Linked DNA regions of Homo sapiens: all the other regions are reported to be linked to region 1. The links are microRNA targets in miRTarBase. Many come from high-throughput screens and were not tested one by one. Region 1 holds a microRNA gene; each other region holds the end of a gene's coding sequence.

Region 1 (3,152 bases):
TGCCACCAATTTGGCAACCTGTAGGGACCTGATTCCATTTCTTCCACTTCAGTCACGTCTAAGGTGAAAGCCTTAGGCTAAGTTCCACAGATATCTAGCTCCACAATGATGTGGGCAGAGACCGTATTAAGTCTAGTGGGATCCTCTTCCCCTTTAAGAAGCTGCTTCTAGCATTTTCTCTGGATATAAGCACCCAAGGCATTTCCTGTAACTCTGAGCTCCATCGAACTTCCTGTGCCCCATGGTCATGCTGATCCTGGCCTTGGGAGAGAAAGACATTTCTGTATCCTTGTTTCTTCCCTGAATGTCTGTCACTAGCTTCCAGATATGGTCCTTACTTGCCTCTGTCTCTTGCTCCTGGTTGATTTCTCTATGCTCTGTTTGAGATGCCTAAAAAAGTCACTGGTTCTTCCCTTGGGCAGTGCTTGTCTTCTGCTCTTGGTTTAAGCATCTAGGTCTTGACTCACCAGTGGTCATGACATTGGGGGTGATGCCATCATTCCCTGTGGCCTCTCTACCTTACAAAGGTTCCTTATTTTCTTCCTATTTCAAGACTTTTGTGTGGTGAATATTCCTATTCCCTACTTCTTACCTAAGCTGGTGTGTTATTTAGGTGTCTTCATGTGTTTAGGTCCATGGTTCTCAAACAGGGGGATGTGGGGAAAGAGTTTTGCCCCCAAAAAGACATTTGGCAATGTCTGGAGGCTTTTTTTTTTTTTGAGACACGGTCTTGCTCTGTCACCTAAGTTGGAGTGCAGTGGTGCGATCTCAGCTCACTGCAGCCCCAACATCCTGGGCTCAAGCGATCCTCCCATAGCAGCCTCCGAAGTAGCTGGAGCACAGGTGCACACCACCACGCCCACCTAATTTTGTTTATTTTTTGTTTTTATGAAGACGAAGTCTTACTATGTTGCCTAGGCTGGTCTCGAACTCCTAGGCCCAAACAATCCTCCAACCTCGGCCTCCCCAAATGCTGGGATTACAGGCATGAGCAACTGCACCAAGCCTGGAGGCATTTTTAGTTGTCCCAAGGAGGGGCAACTCCTAGAATCTAGTGCACGGAAGTGAAGGATGCTATTAAACATCCTATAAGATACAGAATAGCCCCCAACAACAAAGAATTATCTGGCCTATGATGTCAATAATATTGAGTTTGAGAAACTCTGGTCTTAGAGAAGAGGACCTAATCTTAATTCTGAAAGTAGGTTTATCTGATGTGTAGGTAAATCTGTTCTTTGCAGTGACTGGTTTAACAATAAGTGTATGATTCACTCTAGGCCAATGAAACACAAGAAGTTGCTGAGGGCTTCTTAAAAGGTCCTTCCCTCTGGTGCTGCCAGGTGAAGGTGTGAGCCTTGACCCATGTCACTGCCAGCCCTGGGAGTAAATTGAAGCCAAGGGAATGGCAGGGAAATGGACCAGAGCCACTGGACTCATCAATCCTGAAGTACATCTTTTGGCTCTACTTCCAGAGCTAGGAGTCTCTTTCTTGATTAAGCAGGTTTGAGATTTTTTTTTTCTTGTTGCTGTGGTTACCTACAGCCACATGAATCTCAATGATGCATCTTTACTCTTTTTGGTCACTCATTTGTTTCCGCTTACCATCAGAAGGGTACCTCCAGCTCTTAGCTAATTTTCAGAGCCTCCCTGAACCTGGACAATGATCTGGCTCAAGTCCCAGCTTTGTCCACTTATGCTTCAATGTTCAACAGACCCTTCTGAATGCAGAATTCCTTCAATAAATATTATTATAATAAAAAGACTTCACTCATACTATAAAAAATAACAGACTAACCATTCAGAGGCTACCCAATGGGATTCAATCGATTGGATGTAGGCCTAAGTTCAACTAGGCCTAAACTAATCACAAAACTTGGAGGCACAAAACTTTTTTCCTGTAGGAAAAAAGATGACATCCAGAGAGCAGACAAATTCATTTAAACATCTGACGACTAAAAGGGAGAGGAGCATTTAGCACTTTAAAGCCACGAGAGCAGGTGTTCTTTTATAGTCTTTTATATTGACAGCTGAATGTTTATAAAACAAAGTGCTTGGGTGGCTGGAAAAACAGGCATGCTGACATTAAGGAAGACAAACATTAAAAAGAAAAAAGCAAACTCTCCAGCAAAGGGAGCAATGATCCTGCTGGAGGGGGGTAGGGGGTGAGTTAAAGTCTTTCTAAGATTCTGTGGCCTCATTTAAGTGTGGAAAACACACACCTAAACATCTGCTATGTATGACTTAAAAACCAAGTTCCACTTCATATTCCTCTTTAACCAAATTCTTGCTCTATGCCAAATAACCTATGAGCACTGAGTTTAGGTTTTTCAAAAATGAGGACATTTAAATTTTTAATTTTGTTAAAAAGATCAGGTCATTGAATTCTTTTGTTCAAACTCTCAGAGTGGAGGAAAAGGCATAGTACAATTGCTGGATAGTCAATTACTCTGGATTCCCCCAAGTTATTATACTCTTTATTATACTTGCTAGGGTCAAGTATTTCAGTTTTCTAGACACTTAAGAAAGCCTCCATCTTAGTTTGGGAAAAAGTAAACCATGTATCAGAGTTGGCACAATACATTCTTACTGTTGTTCACAAATCAGCTTTGGGATAGGACAGGTATGAACAATTATGTCCTAGAAAAGGTGAAACTTTTAAAAAAGATGAATGGCTGACCAATGATCTGTGATTACAAGGGACACTCCTAGTAAAGGTTTTTAGTGTGAGCTCCACGTCTCAATAATTATCAACTACAGCAGCAGTCTCCAACATTTTTGGCACCAATATTTAGGGACTGGTTTCATGAAAGACAATTTTTCCACAGACGGGGGTGGGGATGGGTTATGGCATTAGATTCTCATAAGGAGCACGCAACCCAGATCCCTCGCATGCACAGTTCACAATAGGGTTTGCGGTCCTATGAGAATCTAATGCTGCCACTGATCTGAGCGGAGGTGGAGTTCAGGTGGTAATACTTGCTCACCTGCCACTCATCTCCTGCTGTGCAGCCCAGCTCCTAACAGGCCACGGATCAGTACCAGTCCACGGCCTAGGGCTTGGGACCTCTTGAACTATAGAATTGGTTTTCACTAGCTTTGCTTTCCAACTGCAGGCTAGACTACTCTGCGGGATAGGAATCAAGGGAGGGTTT
Region 2 (3,000 bases), not on the chromosome of region 1:
CCCTTCCTGCTGGCCAGGCCGCTTCTAGATACGCTCCTACAAGTAAAACTTGGCTTTCTGTTGGTTGTCTGGTACTACTATGCCAATAGACTCCCTATTCTTTAGTCCTTTTAAAAAATTAAACAGATGCAAGAAATATGTAAGTATTAAGACTGTTTATGTTGTGGTGTTTCTGCAACTGACTGCAAACACGTGTGTATTTTTTCCCAGCCATACATCCTGGCGGAGGAGCTGCGTCGGGAGCTGCCCCCGGATCAGGCCCAGTACTGCATCAAGAGGATGCCCGCCTACTCGGGCCCAGGCAGTGTGCCTGGTGCACTGGATTACGCTGCGTTCTCTTCCGCACTCTACGGGGAGAGCGATCTGTGATGCTGAGCTTCTGTAATCACTCATCCCATCAGAATGCAATAAAAGCGGAAGTCACAGTTTGTTTCCTGGAAACTTTGACAAGCTTTATTAAGTTGAGAGAGAGAGAGGGGAAAAAAAAAAGCCTTTCGTAGTTCAGTAATTGCCAGCAATATAACACGGCTAAAATGAAGTTTTTACAGTATATGACATAGTGCGCTTCATAAATAGGTTTATTTCTGAGTTTTTAGCAAAATGTAATGAAATATCAGGTTGATTTCTTTGATTAAACAGAACAAATTACTTGAGTAATAGGAAATTAGGAGGATCTAGGGACAGAAGGAAAGTGAAAAATGTGAAAATACAAAATACCCAAGATTTAAGACCGGGGGGAAAAAACCACAAATTGGTAAATAAAGGTTTGCTATTTGTAAAAAATTTCATTTATCTCTAATATGCTTATGTGATTGCCCCTAGGGGAGTATATTTGGGATTCTAATGTTTTATTTTCATGCTTATCCAAAGATTACTATTGTATCTTCAAATGAATTTAATATTGTGAGATGGAACTGCCGGGGATTAAAAAGACTACCCAAAAGATTTTTGGCACTTACAATTTTTAAAATAGTTTATGTCATCTCTTCATTATTTAGGGCTGGATGGTCAACTCAGTCAGTGATTTTTTGATGCTTCTCTTATCCTCCAGAATAGAGACCTAAGGACACGTGGAAGTCAGTTTAATTGCCAGAGAGAAGGATGCAATCACTAGGTAAAATGAGGTTTTTAGGATTATTTATTGATTCCAGGTTCCCATGCTTTTTGTTAGAGCTTATTAGTACAGGTTCTCAAGAGATGACCACATAAAAGTGCTCTGTTTATAAATAAGCAGGTTTCTGTAGTACTGACTGGTTCATCACAAGGCAAGTCAGAAACCAGTATCCTTCTAGCTCTCCAGTCAGGACTTCCTTATGCCTCTAGTTTTATGACCGGTTAAGGAGAAGCCAGAGTTAGAGTAGGAGAGGACTAATTCTCAGCAGCAGTGGAGGTGAGTTCTTTCTTTTGCGGAAGCTTTACATATGTTTTGTGTAGTAGGAATAACTAGATATTTTAGCTAGTGTGCGGTGTGTGTTCACCCCTGGGATTGGACAGTGTATCCTAACAAGTCCCATGTCTGGTTCTGTGTCTAAAGGCCTGCTCCATGACACAGGATGCTACATGCACTCCTGCTAGCACATCTTGATCTGTTGAATGTTCATTCTTTCTTTTTGCTCATACTGCTGTAGGCTATAATTCCCCCCTGTTTTTCCATCTTGTTGACAGCTTGTAGAGAATAAAGCAGGAATTCTTTTTATATCTGAGTCCTTAATGATCAGGAAATGGATTACAAACAAACAAAAACAGTTGCAAACAGCAATTAAAGCATTACTAGAGAAGCAGTAACATGTCTGTTACCTACAGTCTGTTTGCTCAGATTTTTATAGATTTCCACCAACAGCTGGAAATGTAATATTTCCATTCCAAGCTGTCTGACAGCTTGACTCTTCTTCCTACACTGGGCCATTTAGAACCTTCAACCTTTATGAATTTCACTTAATTTGCTTCATTATTAAGTAATTGGTAGTTTCCAGATTCCTGAAATATTTGAATCCTTGAGTTTAATGCCAAACACTTTTGGGGTGGTTTAGATGAACTCTGACTCTATTTTATTTCAAGTAGGTGCTATATCCCGGCCATAAACCCCTATAGAAAAGCCAGAAAGTTGTGCTTCCTTTGAGGCTATTAGGGGGCTCTGTGGTGTTTTAGGATGGGTGTGGGTAACTCATCTACCTAAACTTTTAATTTCTTTACAACATTCAGCAAGAGAGGGGGTCAGTAGTCTCTATCTGCTAATAAATGAAGAAAGGAAGTAAACTCTGAAAAATAATAAACATGTTTATACTCTCATTTTAGGTATTATTTTTATTTCTGAAGCTGGATGCTCAAAAATTAAAACGTTTATAAGTTTCTAAATTAAACTTAATTTATAAAAGAAAAAAGAATCCCTATTTTTGTTATTTCAAAAAATAACCATTACTTTGGTTAACTACAAACAAACTTCCTCACTTAAAGGTTCCATGAGAATTAAAAACAGTCATTGGGTTAGTATTTGCCTCCCTTAAAGAATTAGAGACAGGCTTACTGGGTAGAGGGTGAACATAAGATGGAGAATTAACAATGAACCATTTAGAAGTGAATGATGGATGGCCCGGGGCATGGTGGCACACACCTGTAATCCCAGTACTTTGAGAGGCCAAGGTGGGCGGATCACTTGAGATCAGGAGTTCAAGACCAGCCTGGCCAACATGGCAAAAACCCATGTCTACTAAAAATACAAAAATTAGCCGGGTTTGGTTGCATGCCTGTAATCCCAGCTACTCAGCAGCTAAGGCAGGAGAATCACTTGAACCCAAGAGGTGGAGATTGCAGTGAGCCGAGATGGAGCCATTGCACTACCAGCCTGGGCAACAAGAGTGAAACTCCATCTCAAAAAAAAAAAAAAAAAAAAAAAAATCAGTGATGAATAGATTAGGAAGGAATTTTTAACCAAGAGATCACTTCAGAATCCTCAGTAAATATTTTCTAAAATGTATGCATACTCAGCCCTAATCCCAGAGT
Region 3 (3,000 bases), not on the chromosome of region 1:
ATATGAATTAAGTATTCATTAGTTCATTGATATGACCATTGACCATTTTTAAAAGTCTAAATTGTAATATGTTAACTCCTGATGGCTTGCTGTCAATAAATTATTTTTTTCCTATGATCAGTTTACTTTGGGAAACACTGCCATAGTCAAAGGGATATCTCCAACCCAAAGTTCAAACTAAATACTTCCATTGTGTAAGATGCCACATTTTGAAGCACAGAGAAATATCTGGCAGCTTTGTAGTTTGAAGCCAATTCAAACGGGTGCTATGTTTCAGTTGCACTGATGTGTTACTATTTTTTTAGGTGAAAGAAGGCAACAGGTAGATTCCCCTGCCTGACACAATGATAACCGCACTTTTCACATTTTCGTGTTTATTCTAAACAAGATTACTGAGAGTCATATAAAGCTTTACCTTTACCCAAAGGGGGTTTATTTCAAGTGGCAAAAGCTCACTAAAGTCTAAATGCTTTATTAACTATAATTGTCAGCATATTGTGTTTAAAAAACACTACTTCCCTAGAGCAGGGGTTGGCCAGCCTTTTGTAAAAGGGCCAGATAGTAAATATTTTACACTTTGCCATCTGGTCTCTGCTGTGTCTACTCCACTCTGCTGCGGTAGCATGGAAGCAGCACAGAGAAGACAGAAATGAGTGTGCACGGCTGTGTTCCAGTAAAACCTGATTTGTGAACACTGAAATATATATTTTATATAATTCTCACGTGCCACCAAATAGTACTTTCTTTTGAATTTTTTTCAACAATTTAAAAATGTAAGGCCAGGTGAGGTGGCTCACGCCTATAATCCTAGCACTTTGGGAGGCCAAGGCGGGTGGATCACCTGAGGTCAGGAGTTCAAGACTAGCCTGGCCAACATGGTGAAACCCTGTCTCTACCAAAAATACAAAAATTAGCCAGGTGTGGTGGCAGATGCCTGTACTCCCAACTACTCTGGAGGCTGAGGCAGGAGAATCGCTTGAACCTGGGAGGCGGAGGTTGCAATGAGCCAAGATCGCACATTGCACTCCAGCCTGGGCGACAAGAGTGAAACTCCGTCTCGAAAAATAATAATAAGAAAATTAAATTAAAAATAAAAATGTAAAAACTATTCTTAGGTCACAGGCCCTACAAGAATAAGCTGTGTGCCAAATTTGGCCCATGGGCCAAATGTACGTATGCCCAGCCCTGTTCTATCAAGCAACAGTGAAACTGTCCCTCCTTAGAGACTACCATCCCTAAAACGACTGACTGTACTCGCCATGTGCTGGAAAATGGGAAGACTTAAAAAAAGGGAAATCACTGAGGCAGAGTCAAGGGGCGACAGACCTTACTCGGGATGCCCTCCTGCCCACCCATGCACAGAGGGCCACATCATCCTGGCATCCACAGCCAGCACAGCGACCAAGGCCGTCCATACCCCACCCAACGGGCCTGCAGAGGTGGCCATCTGCGTCTGCGCAGCACTGACTCGCTGGGCATGCCTCCTCTTCCATCAAGTCACCACTCCCCACTGTGGCTCTGAGAGGAACAGAAAGCCACTTTCCCATCCCCCATCCCCTGCGCTGGCAGTCCAGCGACTAAAAGGGCCCAGCTTCTCTGACTGCTAATGGCCCGGCAAGTCTCCTAACAGTGTGCTCTGCCTACACAAAGGGCGCCGGGGCGTGCGTGCCCGGCTCTCGCAGATCACAGCCAGGGCCTGCCCGAGGACTGGCATTTCAATTCACCAAACGTCTTAATTCGGAGGGGGACGGAACACTTTCTACAGAACATTTTAAAGCACATGGGAAGTTTGGGCCCTTTCGCAGTAGAGAGGAAGGAACGAAGGGGAGGAATTTGTAGGCTGTTGTTTAAGGATTGTTAAAGTGCGCACATCATCAGCTGACAAAGATCGGCCGACTGCCAATGCCTCCCCAAACTCACGAAAGCCAAAATTCAGAGTACAGCGTAAAAGGGGGTGCGAGTGGCCTTTACTTTTATAAAGGACATTTGTACACAATGTCGCACAATAAACAACGTCAAGTCTGGGCACACATTACCCACATCTCAGTCAAAAGAAAAGGGTGGCCTGGCCCAGCCCCGAAGGGTTTTCTCTGAGAAATAGGTTGGGGTGTAAAGGTCCCACGCGTGCACCCACAGTCCGTGGCACCTTCCTCTGGTGCACCGTGGCAGGACGCTTTGTTCTTTCCCTAGGGGTCTCCAGCAAACTGCAAGGGCTACAATATGATATTTAGAGTTAAAAACCAATCCCAAGGCCTTAGAACCATGCCCGGGAGTTGGGAGCCTTTTTCTTGGAGGCAGCTGCTCCGGGCCTTGGAAGTTTCTTCCTATTCTGACGCAGGCTGGGAATTCTAGAGGCCTTGTAGGAAGGTCAAACGGACGAGAAGACTGAGGTCAGAGGCTTTCGGAGCATTGCCCGGGCTCTCTAAGCTCGCTCACTTGTCTGCGGGGGTGCGAGTCGACGGTTCAAAGTCTCCCTCCTTTCCCTCCACGCGCCCCTCACGCCAGACTCGCCACGCTCAGCAAAGCGTCCCAGCAAGTTCCTTGAGGCGGCAGCCCGAGCTCCACGTGCTAATCAACCCCGCCCCACGGCTCTTCGAAACTCTCCAGGCTCAGAGCGCGTCCGCAGGGCGCGCGTAGCGCAGCGTGTAGTTGGCGCCCGCGTTGTTGTCCCAGTACTCGCCCTGCGCGCAGCGGTAGCAGACAGCGAAGTGGACCGCGACGCCGCGCTCGTCGGCGTCCTCTTCGTCCTCAGGCTGCAGGCCCGGGGGCAGGCACAGCGAGAAGTGGAAGCACTCGGCGCCTGGCTCTTTCTTGGCATCCCCGGACCCTGGCTCGGAGGCCCCAGACGGTGCCTCTGGCTGCTGTGGCTCCAGCGGCTCGGGCTGCAGCTCAGCCGGCACGTCCAGGAAGGAGCGCCACTCGGTAAAGGTGTAGCGCACGGTCACGGCCCTGGGCCCAGGGCAGCTGAGCACCCGGCCGGAGCCCTTCACCTCAGCGCCC

The links. The annotated mature microRNA hsa-miR-4446-5p reads AUUUCCCUGCCAUUCCCUUGGC and lies in region 1 at 1,394-1,415, opposite strand. An mRNA with a match to its seed (bases 2 to 7 or 8) in the 3' UTR can be bound and repressed. Matches are read on the target gene's strand: a 7mer-m8 pairs with bases 2 to 8, a 7mer-A1 pairs with bases 2 to 7 and ends in A, and an 8mer does both.
Region 2: the mRNA of ACTN2 is a reported target of hsa-miR-4446-5p. Seed matches in the 3' UTR shown: 7mer-A1 at 477-483 and 7mer-A1 at 736-742.
Region 3: miRTarBase lists PPP1R3G as a target of hsa-miR-4446-5p. Seed matches in the 3' UTR shown: 7mer-m8 at 2,479-2,485 and 7mer-m8 at 2,182-2,188.

Annotation. Positions count from the first base shown.
Region 1 is chr3:113,593,146-113,596,297 of GRCh38, reverse strand. MIR4446 (microRNA 4446) reads right to left here and starts at 1,422; the gene lies at 1,356-1,422. All of the region lies in intron 10 of SIDT1 (SID1 transmembrane family member 1), which reads right to left.
Region 2 is chr1:236,762,251-236,765,250 of GRCh38, forward strand. ACTN2 (actinin alpha 2) reads left to right here. Exons shown (of 21, transcript NM_001103.4): 21 at 211-2,381. The coding sequence ends at 369. Among named protein-coding and RNA genes, the nearest start is that of MTR, 32 kb to the right of the region's middle.
Region 3 is chr6:5,086,172-5,089,171 of GRCh38, reverse strand. PPP1R3G (protein phosphatase 1 regulatory subunit 3G) reads right to left here. Exons shown (of 1, transcript NM_001145115.3): 1 at 1-3,000. The coding sequence ends at 2,610. The region is part of intron 3 of LYRM4-AS1 (LYRM4 antisense RNA 1); the gene reads right to left. It also overlaps a transcript of LYRM4 not described here. Among named protein-coding and RNA genes, the nearest start is that of PPP1R3G, 2.3 kb to the right of the region's middle. RefSeq lists an enhancer at 2,860-3,000.